Regions from separate parts of the Homo sapiens genome. Here regions 2 and 3 are each linked to region 1. The links come from fine-mapping of genetic effects on gene expression. A gene starts in region 1. Each other region holds a variant in brackets. All regions are shown on one strand. Distances are from middle to middle. Region 1 holds the start of RIMBP2 (RIMS binding protein 2). Region 2 overlaps RIMBP2 (RIMS binding protein 2). Region 3 has its middle 25 kb from the start of RIMBP2.

What was found. PIP is the estimated chance that this variant, and not a neighbour inherited with it, causes the effect.
Region 2: its variant is the best candidate, but not a certain one, in a credible set for the expression of RIMBP2 in B cells (Fairfax 2012, PIP 0.51).
Region 3: its variant is the best candidate, but not a certain one, in a credible set for the expression of RIMBP2 in liver (GTEx, PIP 0.72).

What each region holds. Positions count from the first base shown.
Region 1 is chr12:130,713,721-130,719,034 of GRCh38, reverse strand. RIMBP2 (RIMS binding protein 2) reads left to right here and starts at 2,736. Exons shown (of 23, transcript NM_001393629.1): 1 at 2,736-2,813.
Region 2 is chr12:130,492,891-130,498,204 of GRCh38, reverse strand. All of the region lies in intron 4 of RIMBP2 (RIMS binding protein 2), which reads left to right. Among named protein-coding and RNA genes, the nearest start is that of PIWIL1, 160 kb to the right of the region's middle. The variant C/T (reference allele first, on the strand shown) is at 2,979.
Region 3 is chr12:130,738,900-130,744,213 of GRCh38, reverse strand. No RefSeq gene overlaps it. Among named protein-coding and RNA genes, the nearest start is that of RIMBP2, 25 kb to the right of the region's middle. The variant C/T (reference allele first, on the strand shown) is at 2,356.

The DNA of each region.
Region 1 (5,314 bases):
TTGTAGAGATGGGGTCTCACTACGTTGTCCAGGCTGGTCTTGAACTACGAGGCTCAAGTGATCCTCCCACTCTGGCCTCCCAAAGTGCTAGGATTACAGGCATGAGCCACTGTGCCTGGCCCTGCATTCTTTCTATGATTTGACCATGTGTCTCTTGGCAGCTACAGTCAACTCTTTGGTCTCAAGTTGTCCAGCTGAAAAAGTGGGCTCCTCACGCCGAGACCCATGACATGCAGCCCCACACACATGGGATACTGCAGACGACAGTGCAGCCATGACAGAGACTCAGTGGGGCTGGTGCAGACAGCAATGGCCCTGTATGGGGAGAACCCAGCATCTTTGAATGGAAACATTTTTTGCAGCTTATTTGTTTTCGAACCTTGGCTTTTTGGCCTAAATGTTCCATGGCATTCCTTAACAATTAATTTCCTCTCTGCTGAGAAAACAAAGGTGGAGAGTCATTTTCATGCCACTGAATGACCTTTTAAAAGATTGAATCCTTTCTAAGGGGGAATAGCTTTATTTCCTTCTGTCAAATATTTCATTTGTCCCCTAGAAGAGCCCCGTGAAGTAGACATTATGTGATAAGCAGACACGATCGTTTTACAGATGTGGGAAAAGACTGACCTGCTCCAGGCCACACAGATGGAGTCAGGAAGGGGCAGACTGGGTCAGTGGGGCCCAATTCACAGGCACTTTCTACGGTCTTTTCATATGTTTTTATGGAGGTAAAGTTCACATCACATAAAATTAACCATTTTAAAGTAAACAATTCAGCGGCATTTAATACATTCACAGTCTTGTGCAACTGCCACCTCTCTCTTGTTCCAATGTGTTCTCACCACCCCAAAAGGAAACCCCACTCCAGTAAGGAGTCACTCCTCATCTCCTCTCCTCCTAGCCCTCAGCAACCACCAGTCTCCTTTCTGTCTCTATGAATTCGCCTATTTTGGATATTTCATAAAAATGGGCTCATACGATAGATGGGCTTTGTGTCTGGCTTCTTTCCCCAGCATGGTGCTCTCAAGGTCCATCCATGTGGTAGCAGGAATCACATACTCCATTCCTTTTTCCTGGCTGAATAATATTGCATTGTATGGATATGCCACATTTTGTTTCCCCATTCATCCATTGATGGGCACTTGTGTCATTTCTACCCTTTGGCTGTTGAGAGCAGCGCAGCTGTGAACATGTGTGTACGAGTATCTGGTAACCAGTCCCTTCCACGATTTTCTGCAGTCTTGTAGTTTCTGTGACCTGATAACTCTGCTGCAGGGTGAAAAGGAATCATCTGTGGTTTGCCACCTACTCCTGGATACAGCACGTATCTCTTTGTTCCATGCACAGAGGCTGGGGCCACTCTACACGGGGCTTGAAAGAAGCCTCCAGTCTTGCAGCCAAATTCAGAGGCATATAATTCAGAAGCCTATCCGGGAGGCCAAAATGAGTCCTGACTGGGAAAACTCGCTGGACCCGTCTGCCACAGTGTTGAAAAAGTTGTCTTGGGAAGAGGTTTCCTCTGGCTGTCTAGGTTTGAGACCTTTGCGATTCCTTTAAGATCACAAGCAAAACCACGGTGATGGTAGGATGTGTTGGTTTTACTAAGGAGCCCATTTTTTAAAAAACTTGTAAAGTGAGCCTTAATTGGAGAAGCAACAGAAAGCACCTCGGGACAAGTCCTTCCTTTTTGTACAAAGGACCCGTGGTGAGCCCTTCCTTGGAATTCTCGTGTCCTACACTCGAGTCTTGTCCCTGCACAGGGCCATCATTAGTAGGAGCCCTCAGAGCCTCAATTAGGGTATGTGGAGCCCAAAATACCAAAGGGGCTTTCCTCCGCATGAGCTATCTTATTCAGCACCTTTCAGTAACAAGCCATGGGATTTTTACCCCAGGGAAGGAAGCAAGTGTGTGAAGTCCGTGCGTGTTTCCCAGGGTTTTTTCCCTCCTGCACCACCCGGTTGCTAGGTAGCGGGTATATCTGTGCCACCACCTGAAGTTCTGTGGGAAGGGGGAATCTGCGGGGCCACTGGAGGCTTGGGGTGGGGAGGGGAGCCGGACAGGAGAGCAAAGACCCAGGCAGCTTGGGTCGCTCCTCTTCATCACTTAATTCTGAGGGCGCTTGAGTTTCTGAGCTTCCTGGAGTAGAGCCCAGGGCAGCTTTTACTTTGATGTGCTGATCGGTTGCCTGTCGGTTGCAGGAGACCCCCGGCCTCCTGCAGGGAAGATCCTGTGCTGTTTTCCCAGGGATGGAGAGAAAAGCACCAACCCCAAGCCCCGCATGGCTGAGAGCTGTTTGCCTCCATCTCTGTCCGAGCTTTTCACCACAGCTCTGTGAAAGAAACTGGCAGTGAGGGGTATAGCCATCTTGGTGTGTGTATGCGCACGTGTGTGTGCATGTGTATTTGTGTGTGTGTGTGTGTGCGTTCAAACACTGACGTTTCAGAGGCTCTGGTTACTGCTGCATGGCGGATGATCCTCTCTCTCTCCCTCTCTCTCCCTCCCTCTCTCCCTCTCGACCTGCTTGCCTGCCTGCAGAAAACTAATGAATCATGTCTAGCTGAATGCAAGCAGTGCAGACACACCAATGCCCTGCAATGTTGACTGGGCGCCGCCTCTGCCTGCCTCTCGCTCCCTGTCTCTCCCTCTGCTGCTCCCTCCCTCCCTCTCTCCCTCTCCCCCTCCTCCCTCCCTCCTTCTCTCCCTCTCCCCCTCCTCCCTCCCTCCGTCTCGCCCCCAGTTTGTAATCTGACACAGTACACTGCAGTTGTCTCCGAGGTGAACCTCCGGAGCCTTGGCACAGCTCGCTTCTAAAGGTAGGCTGAGATTTATTTTTTTCTCCTAAAAATAGCTTCCCGTCTCCCCTCGCCTTTCTGCACCCGAGCTGCAGCGGCGTTGATCACAGGGGGTTAGCCGGAAACTCTTTGCCCAGACAAAGTTTATCTTGCAGCGGATGGAGAATGCCCTTCAGCGTGGGGTCCGGGGGCGCTGGGTGCGGGGAGCAGCGGCTCGCCCTGCTGGCATGTCGGTGCTGCTTGGAATTCAGGATCGTCTCGGAAGGGAAGGGCTGACGGGCTTCTTCCTGGGTGCCGGGTGTCAGCTGCAGGGGTGCTGTGGCTCTGTCATGGCCCCCACCCCAGGCTTTTAAGAAAGGCCCCTCCAGGCAAAGTTTGGCACCCGATGGACACGGCCCCGCTCGCCTGGGGAGTGCGCCCCAGGCTTCTCAGACAGCAGCGGCTCAGGGCCTGGACTTGTCTTCTTGGGGGCGGGGTGGAGGGGGGGAAGGGGACGTGGGACAAACACATCAGAGTCCCCAGCTCGGCTCAGGTGCAAATGCACAAAGCCCGCAGGCTGCGCCCAGGAATCTGTCAATTCACGTCCCATGGACTGACTTGAATAATGTGTTTGTCAAAACAGATGTTCCCCGGCAGAGTGTGTGCGTGCATGCGTGTGCCTGTGTGAGCAGTGTGCGCGGGCTGCTGGCCGGGGGCAGACTCTCCCAGTGGAAACCGTATTTCACCGGGAAAGGCAGCGCGTACGGGACCACCCGCCCAGGAGCTTAGGTCTGGGTAGGTCCAGGTGGGGGCCCGGACATCTGTCAGCAGAGGCCTCGGTGGAAGCAGCCTCCCTCCTGTCCCCGGGGAGCGCACGCTGGCTGAGGTCGGGGTGGCGGCTGGCCGGAGGGAGGGAGGACTGCTTCACCTCCCGGCCTGGTCACTGGCCCCGGGGGAGGCGGGGGTGCTGGCTCCGTGCCTGCGTGGCCTCTGGGTCCCTGGAGGTTCTTAGGGTGAGTGAGGAGGGAGGGAAGGGGACCCTGTCCAGCCCCATATTTCTCTCACGGAGGAGCCCTGAAGGAGACTCTGCTCACAAGGGTGAAAACCCCACTTCGTCCAGGGAAGGGAAATGTCACAGATGGAGCAGGCCTGAGAGGAGGGAGAGCGGCTCCCTCTGAAAATGGAAGATCGGTGGGAAGAGGAGGTGTCCGGGCTCTGGGCCCTGCGGCAGGCCAGGCTGCTGGGCTCTGAGCAGGAGTGGGCAGGGGAGGGGAGCTGGCGTGCAGGCTCACTCACCCGGTTTCTAAGGGGAACAGTGGGGGAAGGCTCTAAAAAATCACCACCTCCCCCACGCACATGGCCCCTCCCTGGCTCCCTCCCAGCCTTGCTGGGCTGTCCGGGAATCAGCTTCAGACTCATCCCCCGCTGGGCTGTGGGGTCTTGGCTTGTCCTGTGAGACATGATCCCAAGCTCCCAGTGGGATGGGCAGGGTCTGACCGGCTCCGGAGGTTCCCTGGGGGCACGGTGTGAGGGGAAGGCCGGCGGGCACCCCTTCTGCAGTGGGGGGTGGTGGGGCGTGCCTGGGGTCGAGGGCTGTGCCGTGGCCATATGGCAGCCGCCTGGGGCCCAGAGTGGAGCCCTTCCAGGTTATTTCAGGGAAGGCGCTGGCAGCGGCTATTCCCCCGTGCCCCTTCCTAGAGGATGGCAAACTGGGTCAGGGAGAGGGTGGCACTGCCCACGTGCCCGGGAGACAGGAAGATGCTGGCGCTATGGGGGCCGCCCCCCACGCAGGAGGCAGGCGCCACGCAGCCCTCCCCGGGGCATAGCAGCCGGCCTCCCCCATGCTGCAAGCCCGGCAGAGAACCCCAAGCCTGCAGAGTCCGGGGGTGGGCGTGGGTGGTGGAGAAGCCTCCCAGGTGAGGCCAGCGTGCAGCCGGGCTGAGAGCTCCTGGCCATGAAGATGAAAAGACAAGCGGTGGGCCCTACACTGTAGCTTTCAGTTTCATCTCTTTGGCCCCATGCACTGTTGGCGCCTGGAAGAGACCAGCATGTGCTCAGGGGGCGGGAGGAGAGGCAGGAGCTGGCTCTTTCCTGAGCTTGCTTCGCTTTCCATTTCAAATCCACCCCCTGCCACGTTTGTATTTTTGGAGTCTGGTTGAAGTTTTAATTGGAGCAGCGATTCTCACACGTTGGTGAGCGCTGGCATCCTGGCGGGTGGGTTAAGGGGCTACAAATCTCAGAACCTCTGATCCAGCAGGTCTGGGGAGGAGCCGGGAATCCGCATTCCCACGCAGTCCCAGGGGAGGTGGAGGCATCCAGGGACCCCACTTTGAGGATCCTTGAATACAGCGTGACCAGGAGGCGCTTTACGCATCTCTGGGGCATGTTGCCAGCTCTCTGTTGGCCTTTGGCTGAGGTCATACATGAAGCTGAGTGCACGCCTCATAGGTTGGTCTAGACCCGCAAGTGCCAAACCTCAGGGACCAGAGGGCCTGACCCGGGAGCTTCCTTTGTGTCCGGGAGTCTCCCTAGGGCACGGCAAT
Region 2 (5,314 bases), 220 kb after region 1:
ATGGAGAATGACTGGGCAGCCGGAGGCCTGGAGTCAGTGCTGCCTTCATGGAGAATGACGGGGCAGCCGGAGGCCTGGAGTCAGTGCTGCCTTCATGGAGAATGACCGAGCAGCAGGAGGCCTGGAGTCAGGGTGCTTCTCTGCAGAGGTGCTTCTCTGGGGCTCACAGGTGACTGTATAAAGTCACATCTACAGATCAATCTGCAGTTCCTTTCTGGAATAGACAGAGACTCTCCAAGGGGAATAAACACAGGAGAGTTGGTGATTTCCGGCATCTCCTCAGCCCAGGCTGGTGTCAGACAAGGATCTCCCCACCGCGCACTCCTTGTTGCATTTAACCCAGAGTCAGTCCTCCTCTTAGGTCCTGGCACAGGAGTCTGATCAAAACACCCAGCACTCCTCTGAAGCAGGGTGCCTGTCAGAAGTGAGTGCATTGTGATAAAATAAACAAAATGCTTTTTATTCTCCAGCTTCTCAGATTCAAATAAAAAACGCATTGGGCTTTTTTACTCACTGCAAAAAAACAAAACAAAAAAAGCCTCATGTGTTTTTCATGTGAGTTTCTACTGCCTGATACACAAGACATTCTGGGTCCTCAGCCTCTCCCCAGCTCCTGGGTAAAGGGACTGCAACCGGTGGTGCTTCGCTCACAGCCACGGCCAGAACGCATCTCTCCAGCCCCTTCTCCCATGGCCCGTGAGACAGTTCTGTTCGTCGGATGCGGTAGAGCGACAGCTGCTTTTATTTTAGAGTCCTGGCAGGGAAGGACGGTTTAACTTCACACTCACAAGGTTTCTAGATTCAGAGAGCTCAATCTAGAAGCAGTTAGAGGCAGGGACTGGTGGACCCACCAGAGGCTGTGAGCAGAATCAGTGATTACGGAGCCCAGGGAGCAGAAGGCAGGTGAGAAGCTTCTGGACAGAGGGGTAGATTCAATCAGCCTCCCCACAGTCATGTCCACCCAGAACTGGGGCGCGGGGCCTAATTTGGAAATAGTGTGTTTGGAGATGTAACTAGGTGAAGGTGCGGTCGCACATCAGGGAGGGCCCTCGTTCAGTGACAGGCTTTGGAAAGAAAGGAGAGGGGAGTTTGGATAGAGACACAGACGCTCAGGGAGGAAGCCACGTGTGGATGGAGGCAGAGATCAGAGCCATGGAGCGCCCAGGAGCCTGGCAAGATGGGGAAGAGCCTGCCCTGGAGCTTTCGGAGGGTACATGGCCCTGTCCACACCTCGACTGAAGACTTCCGGCCTCCAGGGCATGAGAGGATGGGTTGCTGTTGTTTTAAGCCCCCAGTGTATACACATCCCAGTCTCTCTGTACTCTGCTCAGTGACATCGGGGCAGTCATGGTCTGATGGCCTGGGCAGAACAACTTGAGGGTCCCACTCCTCAGGGAGAGGACAGCAGTCCCAGTGTGCAGAGAAGTGTGCGGTCCTCCTTGGCTCCTCTGGGTGGCCTGCAGGTGAGAGAAAGGTGTGCCTGAAGGAGGCCATCACAGGCAGGAAACCATCATGTGGTCACTTTCTGGGGAGCGGGCCTGCCCAGCGCCATAGCTGCTGGGGGCCCGACATAGAAGGGGGCTCAGGGTGATGGGAACGTGGCCTTTCATGAGGTATCACTGTGTGCTGGTCTCCCGTGGACAGAAGCATCCCTCCTGCAGGAAGTGGATGGAGCCTCACCCCTCGCAGCCTCCTCTACCCCAGAGCTGCTCAGCAGGGCTGCTGAGACCGGAGTGAGGACAGTGAGATGGTGGTTTAGTCCTTTTTCATGCTGCTAATAAAGACATACTCGAGACTGGGTAATTTATACAGGAAAGAGGTTTAATGGACTCACCATTCTATGTGGCTGGGGAGGCCTCACAATCATGGTGGTAGGTGAAAGTCATGTGTCACGTGGGAGCAGGCAAGAGAAGAGAAGGGAATGAGAATCAAGAGAAAGGGGTTTCCACTGATAAAACCTTCAGATCTTGTGAGATTTATTAACTACCACAGAACAGTGTGGGGGACACCGCCCCCATGATCCAATTATCTCCCACCAGGTCCCTCCCACAAGACATGGGAATTACTGGAGTTACTATTCAAGATGAGATTTGGGTGGGGCACAGCCAAACCGTATCACATGGCTACAGGCACGGACGTACTCTCTGCCGTGGTCCACAATGCTTTACAGTTTAGGTCCAATGAGTCAGCGGCAGAATCATCACCCACCCTAGGGGGACGTTCCCGTTGATCTCAGTAGCATGACCTAATTCAAAGACTTTGGGCTTTTAGTTAGACCAGTCTGAGTTCAAATTTGAATTTGATGATTAACTAGTTGTTTACGTGTGATCAAGCTAACTAATTTCTGAGAACCGGGGTGTTCTCTCATCTTTAAAGTGGCCATAAAGTACCTTTCTAGATGTAAGGGTTCAAAGCATAGAATGTGCCCAGTGATCTAACATAGTGGCTGGTGCTGGAGAGGTTAGTGATCAAGAATTGCTAATACCGTGAGCAATTTCATTGATATACACCCTCAAAGGAATCTACTAGAATAGACAGAAGGATAGCCAGGTACCATGCCAGATGCTTGGAGTAAAACGAGGAGCAAGTCCAAGGTTATTTTTGTTTTCATGAAACTTACCTTCTACTGGGGTGGGAGGAGCTCAGAAAAAAAATCAGGTCATCCAGCAAATAGATAAGAATTTCAGAGACGGAGGAAGACGGTGATGAGCCAGGGTGACCTGGAGGGAGAGGGGAGCGCAGGGCACCCTGCACATGTCTGTTAGGGGGTGACACTTCAGCTGAGGCCCACGTGATGACAGTGGCCTGACCAAGCAACATCCCTGGGGAAATCTCACAGGGGCAAGAGGAGACAACGGGCAGCACTGAGGCGGGAGCCACTAGGGCATGTACCAGCGTGGCTGATGGCTTGGTCTGGGGCAGGTGTCCAGAGGCATGAATCCAGGCAGATGGGGAGCAAGTGAAGCAGCCCCCCTCAT[C/T]ATTTCAGGGCATGTAGAGGGCCAGCTGTGTTCCCCCAAATGACGCCCAAGTCCTAAATCTATGTATCTGTGAATATGACCTTATTTGAAAATGAGTCTGTCCAGATGTCATTAATATAAGGTCATCTTGGAGTAGGGCAGGCCCTAAACCCAAGGACTGTTGTCCTTATAAGAAGAAGAGGCACAGAGACACCCAAGGGGATGGGAGTGAGGTGTCTTCTGGTCAAAGATCACCAAGCATCGTGGCCACGCCAGCAGCTGGAGCGGGGCATGGGGCGGCTTCTCCCTCAGAGGTTCCACGAGAGGATCCGGCCCTGCCGACACCTGGATTTCAGCCTTCTGTGCTCCAGGGCTGTGAGAGGACACTTTCCATTGTCTTAAGCAGAAGTGCCAGTTGTGGTACTTTGTGACCCAGCGGTCACAAATGCATCCTTTTCCCACATAAGGCCAAGTGCTCTGGACAGCAGGGAAGAGGGTGTGTCCTGAGTAACCAGCACACAGGGCTGGAGTGCAGGGTCCTGGAGGCCTCCGTGGGTTACCTGACTCCTACTTTGCTCTTTCTTTTCTTTTCTTTCTTTTTTTTTTTTTGAGACAGGGTTTCACTCTGTTGCCCAGGCTGGAGTGCAGTGGGGCAATCTCAGTTCACTGCAAACTCTGCCTCCTGGGTTCAAGCGATTCTCCCTCTTCAGCTTCCTGAGTAGCTGGGATTACAGGTGCCTGCCACCATGCCTGGCTAATTTTTGTATTTTGAGTAGAGACGGGGTTTCAGCATGTTGGCCAGGCTGGTCTCGAACTCTTGACCTCGGGTGATCTGCCTGCCTTGGCCTCCTAAAGTGCTGGGATTACAGGTATGAGCCACTGTGCTTTGCATCTTTCAAAGCACGTTTGCATCCACCATCTTACCGTGAGACTGTGGAGGCGGGGGCAGAGCAGTGCAGGGAGAACCGTGGTGGCGGGGAGGTGCCAACTTCTAGGCCTGATGCTTGCTGGGGTGTGGAGTGGGCTCCAGGAGGGCCAGGGCGGGGTCTGTCCTTCTGAACCGCTCTGTCCCTGTCCCCAGCGCAGTGATACAGAATGAGCGCTCTGTCCCAGAGTGTGGGATGTACTCACAAGGGGCTGAGTCATCTCCGTGAGCCTCAGTTTACCCATGCATCACAAGCTTGCATTTTTATATCCTCACCCGATCAACGCTTGTCTTTCCCACTGGGATGTCAGCCCCACACAAGCCAGGGCCTCTCAGCTTTGTGTCCACTGTGTCTCCAGTGCCTGTCGGGCCACCTGGACGTAGTTGGTGCTCAGGAAACACTGGACAGAGGAGAGAAACAGAAAGGGCGGATATCCGGGTAAATGTAACAGGCTAGACCAGGCTGTTTTTCTCCTGGTAGACTCTTTCATGTACATAAATGACACTTCAACGAAAATGTAGAACACTGTGATGGGGTTTCAGGTATATAGATGGAGCATGTAAGAATTCCACTTGGAATGGCAAGTTTTAATTCTGAGTAGATTGTTTAAATTTAAATATGTATATTGAGTTCCCTGGGGCAACCACTAGGAGTGACATAAAAACATACAGAACAGCACTCCATGGAGACATTAAAATTGAAAACCAGGCTGGGCATGGTGGCTCCCGCCTGGAATCCCAGCACTTTGGGAGGTTGAGGCAGGCAGATCACCTGAGGTCAGGAGTTTGAGACCAGCCTGGCCAACATGCTGAAACCCCGTCTCTACTAAAAATACAAAAATTAACCAGGCGTGGTGGTACACGCCTGTAATCCCAGCTACTCAGGAAGCTGAAGCATGAGAATTGCTTGAACTCAGGAGGTGGAGGTTGCAGTGAGCCGAGATCACGCCATTGCACTCCAGCCTGGGCAACAGAGCGAGATTCCATCTCAAAAACAAAACAAAACGAACAAAAAGAAACAACAAAAAACAAAAAGAAGGCAGGAAAGGGGAGATCAAATAATGAAAATGGGAGGGAACTAACAGAAGCCAAATCGAGTGGCAGACCTAAATAAAACTTAGTGATATTTACATGAAACTTAATTCCTGTGCAGGTCACTTTGTTTTTTTGTTTTGTTTTGGTTTTTTGAGCTACGATCTCACTCTCTCACCCAGGCTGGAGTGCAGTGCGTTATCTAGGCTCACTGCAGCCTCCGCCTCCTGCGCCCAAGCCATCCTCCTGCCTGAGCCCCAGTCCCCTGAATAGCTGGGACTACAGGTGTTTGCCACCACATTTGGCTAATTTTTTGTATTTTTAGCAGATATGGGGTTTTGCCATATTGCCTAGGCTGGTCTCAAACTTCTGGACTCAAGCAATCCACCCGCCTCGGCCT
Region 3 (5,314 bases), 25 kb before region 1:
CTGGGAAGGAGAGGAGGAGTGGTCAGCCTCATGCAGAGCCTTCCCCCAGTGGGAATGTCACCTGAATTAGGGCCTAAGAGCTGCTCATATTTTAACTGAAAACTACCTTGTGGGGAGAAGGACAGGAAGAAACCCTAAGAAAATATAGTGCGGTCTATTTTACTACAACTATATCTGGAGCTTAAAATGAAAAGGAAGAAAATTGTTACATTCGTTTAAAATGGGTTTGAGCAAAGCAATAGAATACATGGCTAACAGTGGCTTAACACATAGGGCTTTGTTTTTCTCACAAGAGGAGGGGTTTGAATATGGTCAACTGAGAGCAAGGATTCAATGCATCGAGGATGCCTGGCTGTCGTTCTTATGATTCTCTGGGCCTTTGCCTCGTGGTTGAAGGATGGCTGCCACAGCTCCAGCCATCACATCTGAATTCAGAATGGGAAGCAGGAGAATGAGGAATGAGGGATAACACTAATTTCATTTGTTTCCTCTTATAAGGAAAGCCAGCACTTTCCCAGAACTCTCTCCTCTCTATGCCCGTCAGATTTTTGCTTAGACCTCATTGGCCAGAAGAGTGTAACACAGCTACCTGTTGCTCCAGCAGAATCAGGGTTCACTGCCACCCTGAATTAATCAGTATATTTCTGTTTATATAGGAAAAGGGGTGAATGGATATCAGAAAGCATTAGCAGTATCTGTCCCATTAGGGGTACTGAGTTTTGCCTAATGACTTTCTCCTCTTCTGTTTAGGAGAACTGTTCACCCTGTACCTCACCAGGGAGAGGGCGATGCCCTCTGCAAGGGTTCTCTCCACCAAATCCAAAGGTCATCAGTGCCACAGAGAATCCCAGCCCCTCCAGCAGGTGCCCAGGGATGCCAGTCTGGACAGACACCCAGAAATCAGTCTACTGGAGGTGAACAGTGAGGGCCTGGGGTGGGGTCGGTGTTCAGGTAGCTCAGAGTAAATGCCCTTTGCATTACTGGCCTGTAGATAAATGAGCCTGGAGAGCATGGCCCCCAGGAATGACACAAAGAAAAGAGCTTTCTCTGTCTTTGGGATGATTTAGAGATTTTTCTACTGCCTTAAAAAACTTTTATTATTTTGATATAATTTAATGCAGAAAAGCAGCAAGAATAGTGTAAATAACTCCTTCAAACCTTTATCCAGAATTATTAAACTGTTTATATTTTGCCCCAATTTTTTATCATTGGTTTCTTGGTATCTATCTATCTATCTATCTATCTATCTATCTATCTATCTATCTATATCTATTAATCATCTATCAATCTATTGATCATCTATTATCTATCATCTGGCTATTATCTATCATCTGTCTACCTATCACCTATCTATTACCTTATTACCTATCAATTATCTATCTATCCATCTTCTATCTGTCATCCCTCTATCGTCTGCTATCCATACAGAGAGAAGAGAGGGAAATAGAGGAAAGAGATTTTCCCCCAGAATTATCTATTTGAAAGTAAATTCAGATATCTTATCCTTTATCCTTAATATTTCAGTGTGTTTTTTTCTAAAAACAAGGAGATTCTCTTATACCACCACAATACAAAGTTCAAAATCTGAAAATCTAATACTGATACAATACTATGACCTAATCTGCAGTCCCTATTCTCATTTGATCAACTGCCCCAATAACTTCCTAATGGCCACTTTGTTTCCCAGTCCAGAGGCCGACCCAGGATCTCACACTGCATGTGTTGGCCACGTGTTCCAGTCTCCTTCCATCTGGAGCAGTCCCCGTCTCTTTGACCCGATTGAAGAGTATAGCAAGTTACTCTGCAGGCCGTCCCTGGGTTTGGGTTTGCTTGGTGTTTCGTCATGATTTGGTTTAGTTGTGCGTCCTTGGCAGGCCCATGATATGTAGATAAGTTACTGTGGAAGTGACGTCCTGGCCTCAGTATCCCTATCAGGACGCGCAGGACTTTGGTCGGTCCCGCTGCTGGTGATGTTGACTTTGGTCGCCTGGTTCAGGTAGTGTCTGTTATAGATTTCCCACTCTGAGGCTACTGGTTTCCCCTTTGTAATTAATAAATAGTTCATGGGGAGATGCTTTGAAGCTGTGTAAATATCTGGTATTTCACCCATATATTAGAGGTGCAGCCCCCATAGCTTTTTTACCAGTAGGGATATCTAAAATTTAGAAATCTTTGATCATTCCTGCCAGTAGAGGTATGCTAAATATATGTATATGATCAAAATGTTTGGAAAAAACTTTGACCAAAAACAAACAAAACATTTGACCAGGGAACAGCAAACGTTTTCTGTAAAGAATGAGACAGTAAATATTTTAGGCTCAGCTGGCCTTATAGTCTCTGTCACTACTAGTTAAC[C/T]TTGCCATAAGAGTGCAGAAGCTGCCATGGAGAATATGTAAGCAATTAGCTGTGACAGCGTTCCATTAAAACTTCATTTATAAAAACAAGCGGTGGGCCAGAATTGGTTCATGGGCCATAGTCTACTGATCTGCACCTTATGCCACAGTCAACTTGTTTGGCCCTGAAAACTCAGAATTCCTCCTTAGGGGTGATATTTCTACTCTCTAGCCTCTGACCTAGAAGCTTTAGGGTCTTAATTGCTGGCACATAAATTTGCAATGAAGGAATCAAATTGTGCAGCAGCCTGTTGTATGATCTCAAGGGCGCTGACATCAACTGGGCTTAGAACGGCCAAGTCCCCTTTGCCTGTGTCAAGAGGTTTTCCTCTAGAAACTTGTATTAGTCTTTTCTCATGCTGCTAATAAACACATACTCGAGACTGGGCAATTTACAAAGGAAAGAGGTTTAATGGACTCATAGTTCCACCTGGCTGGGGAGGCCTCACAATCATTGCAGAAGGCCAGGAGAAGCAAAGGCATGTCTTACATGGCGGCAGGCAAGAGAGAAAGATCAGCTCTCGTGAGACTCGTTCACTCCCACAAGAACAGTATGGGGAAAACCGCCCACATGATTCCGTCATCTCCAACTGGGTCCCTCCCACAACATGTGGGAATTGTGGGAGCTACAGTTCAAGATGAGATTTGGGTGGGGAACAGCCAAACTATATCAAAATTATTATAAAGAAGGACCTCAACCAAGAGCTGACACACATGGGTTTTGTTTGTCTTGTACAGTTTTAAATTAATCTGAGTTATTTTTGGTGGGCATGGGCTCCTCCAGTTCCCACGAGCCCCACTCCCTGCTTCTGCCTCCCGCCTCCCCGCATTTATGGGTTCCGCTTGACCGTGAGATGATGTTTCTTTTCCACCTCTTTGTGAGGTCTTGACAATTAGGGAATCATTTTCTAGAATTCCTATCTCTTGCAGCCATAGGATGCTAAATCCCAAAAGGAAAATTCACCAAATCAGGATGTTTATATTTAGTGCCTCAATTAGCCACACTCCAAGAAGAGAATTTTCATCATTGTAAGGCACACTCCAGGGAACCCAGCGCTTCAGAAGGATGTGGCTCTTTGCTTAGTTTGTTTAGCTCTGTCTGGTTGTGCAGATTGGGCAACATAACCTGGATCGGCCAGGACACTTCTGGATCAAAGTGTTGCACCCACAGCCGGTTCTTGGTGGCACAAGAGCCCAGGCTTCTAGTCCCAGGGTGTTTCGGGTGGGCGCCAGCAAGTCAGCAGCCGAGGGGAATGAGTGTTCTAGGCTTGGGGGTTGGTTGGAGACAATCTGTTAGTTTATTTTCTCAGAGAGGGAGGTTTGTGGGCAATTCCCACAGTGGGACTAGATTGAGATAGTCAACCTTCTGTGTGATAGCTGCCACACAGGCTTGACCAGCAGTGGGGTTCTTGCTCCTGGATTTCCAGCCAATGGGGCAGGGGTGTCAGCCAGTGAAACACACAACGTGAAGATGTCCGGCACTGGCGGAAACATGCAGCGTGAGCACATGTAGGAACGTATCTGGGGAGACGTATATATGTGGACTCTGTAGGAATCTGTCTATCGGGGAAGGATGTGGGGGTGCTGGAGACCCACATCTCAAGCCATCTCTGTGTATTCTGTTTTTTTTTCCTTTGCAAAGAGGATTGATACGTATTTTAAAAAGTTGAAGTGGATGTTTCATGCTCATGTTTTGCAGCCCTGATTTTGGGGTTTTGGAAATAGTCCAGCAAAAGTTTGCCTGATTCCATTAAAAAATCCAAATACAGACTTTCTCATCGCAAGAGAACCTTCTCTTTACCAGAGCACTGGGAGCACCCAGACCGTGGAGGGGACCCTCTTAGGGGGAAAGGTCAAACTGGAGTCACTGAGCTGAAGCCGCTCGGTGTCAGGTGGAACCAAGTGTCCCCAAAGGGCCCTCTCCTGGGCTTCCTCCCGTGGGGGCCCCTCTGCGGGGATGGGGTCACTGGCCGTCTCTCACGCCCTGCTTTCCCTCTCATGCTGTATCTGTGGTCTATCCTTATGCCTGGCAGGTGTCACCAACTTTAAGTTGTGCGACTTGGGGCTCACACACTCACACCCTTCCAGGGTGGGAGGGACGAACAAGCGGGTGAAGCCAGACAGAGGATGCTGGGGTGGGCAGGGGAGCGGAGGGCCCAAGGACAGTGGGCACCCCCTGCCCAGAGGCTGCCAACTGCTGGCCTGAGGGCAGAGGGCCAGTGTCCCTAGATCTGGTTTTTCAAGAGAAGTCAGAAATCTGGAATTGCGTGTGCAACCCCCAGATTTTTAAATCTTGCCATCAAATTCAGTTTAAAAATTGGGTGGACCAAAATGTATACAGGCTCAGTTCCACCTCAGGCTGCAGGCTGACTTGTGGAATCAGTTCAAGGGCACTGTAAGGTCATAGTTATCCTGGAGGACGTGTTAGTCTCTGGGTTTGCTGAATAATCCAGCTGTGCCAGTTAGGCCTGGGCGCAGCTGCTTCTACAGGCAAAAATAATAGTGGCTTAGACATAGACGTTTACTCCTTTCTCATGTAACAGAAATCTAGGGCTGAGGTGGGCAGATCATCTGAGCTGAGGAGTTCAAGACCAGCCTGGTCCACATGGTGAAACCCTGTCTCTACAAAAAATACAAACATTAGCTGGGCGCAGTGATACACACTTGTAATCCCAGCTACTTGGGAGGCTGAGGCAGGAGAATCGCTTGAGCCCAGGAGGTGGAGGCTGCAGTGAACAAAGATCATGTCATTGCACTCTAGCTGGGGCAACCAGAGTGAAACCTTGTCTAAAAAAAAAAAAAAAAAAAAAAAAAATTCCAGAAGCTAGTTTGGCAGCTCCAAGAGGGACTGAGCTTTTATCTTTTTGCTTTATCATCCTCATGTGAAGACTCCATTCTTAAGGTGACCTCATAGGCCAGTA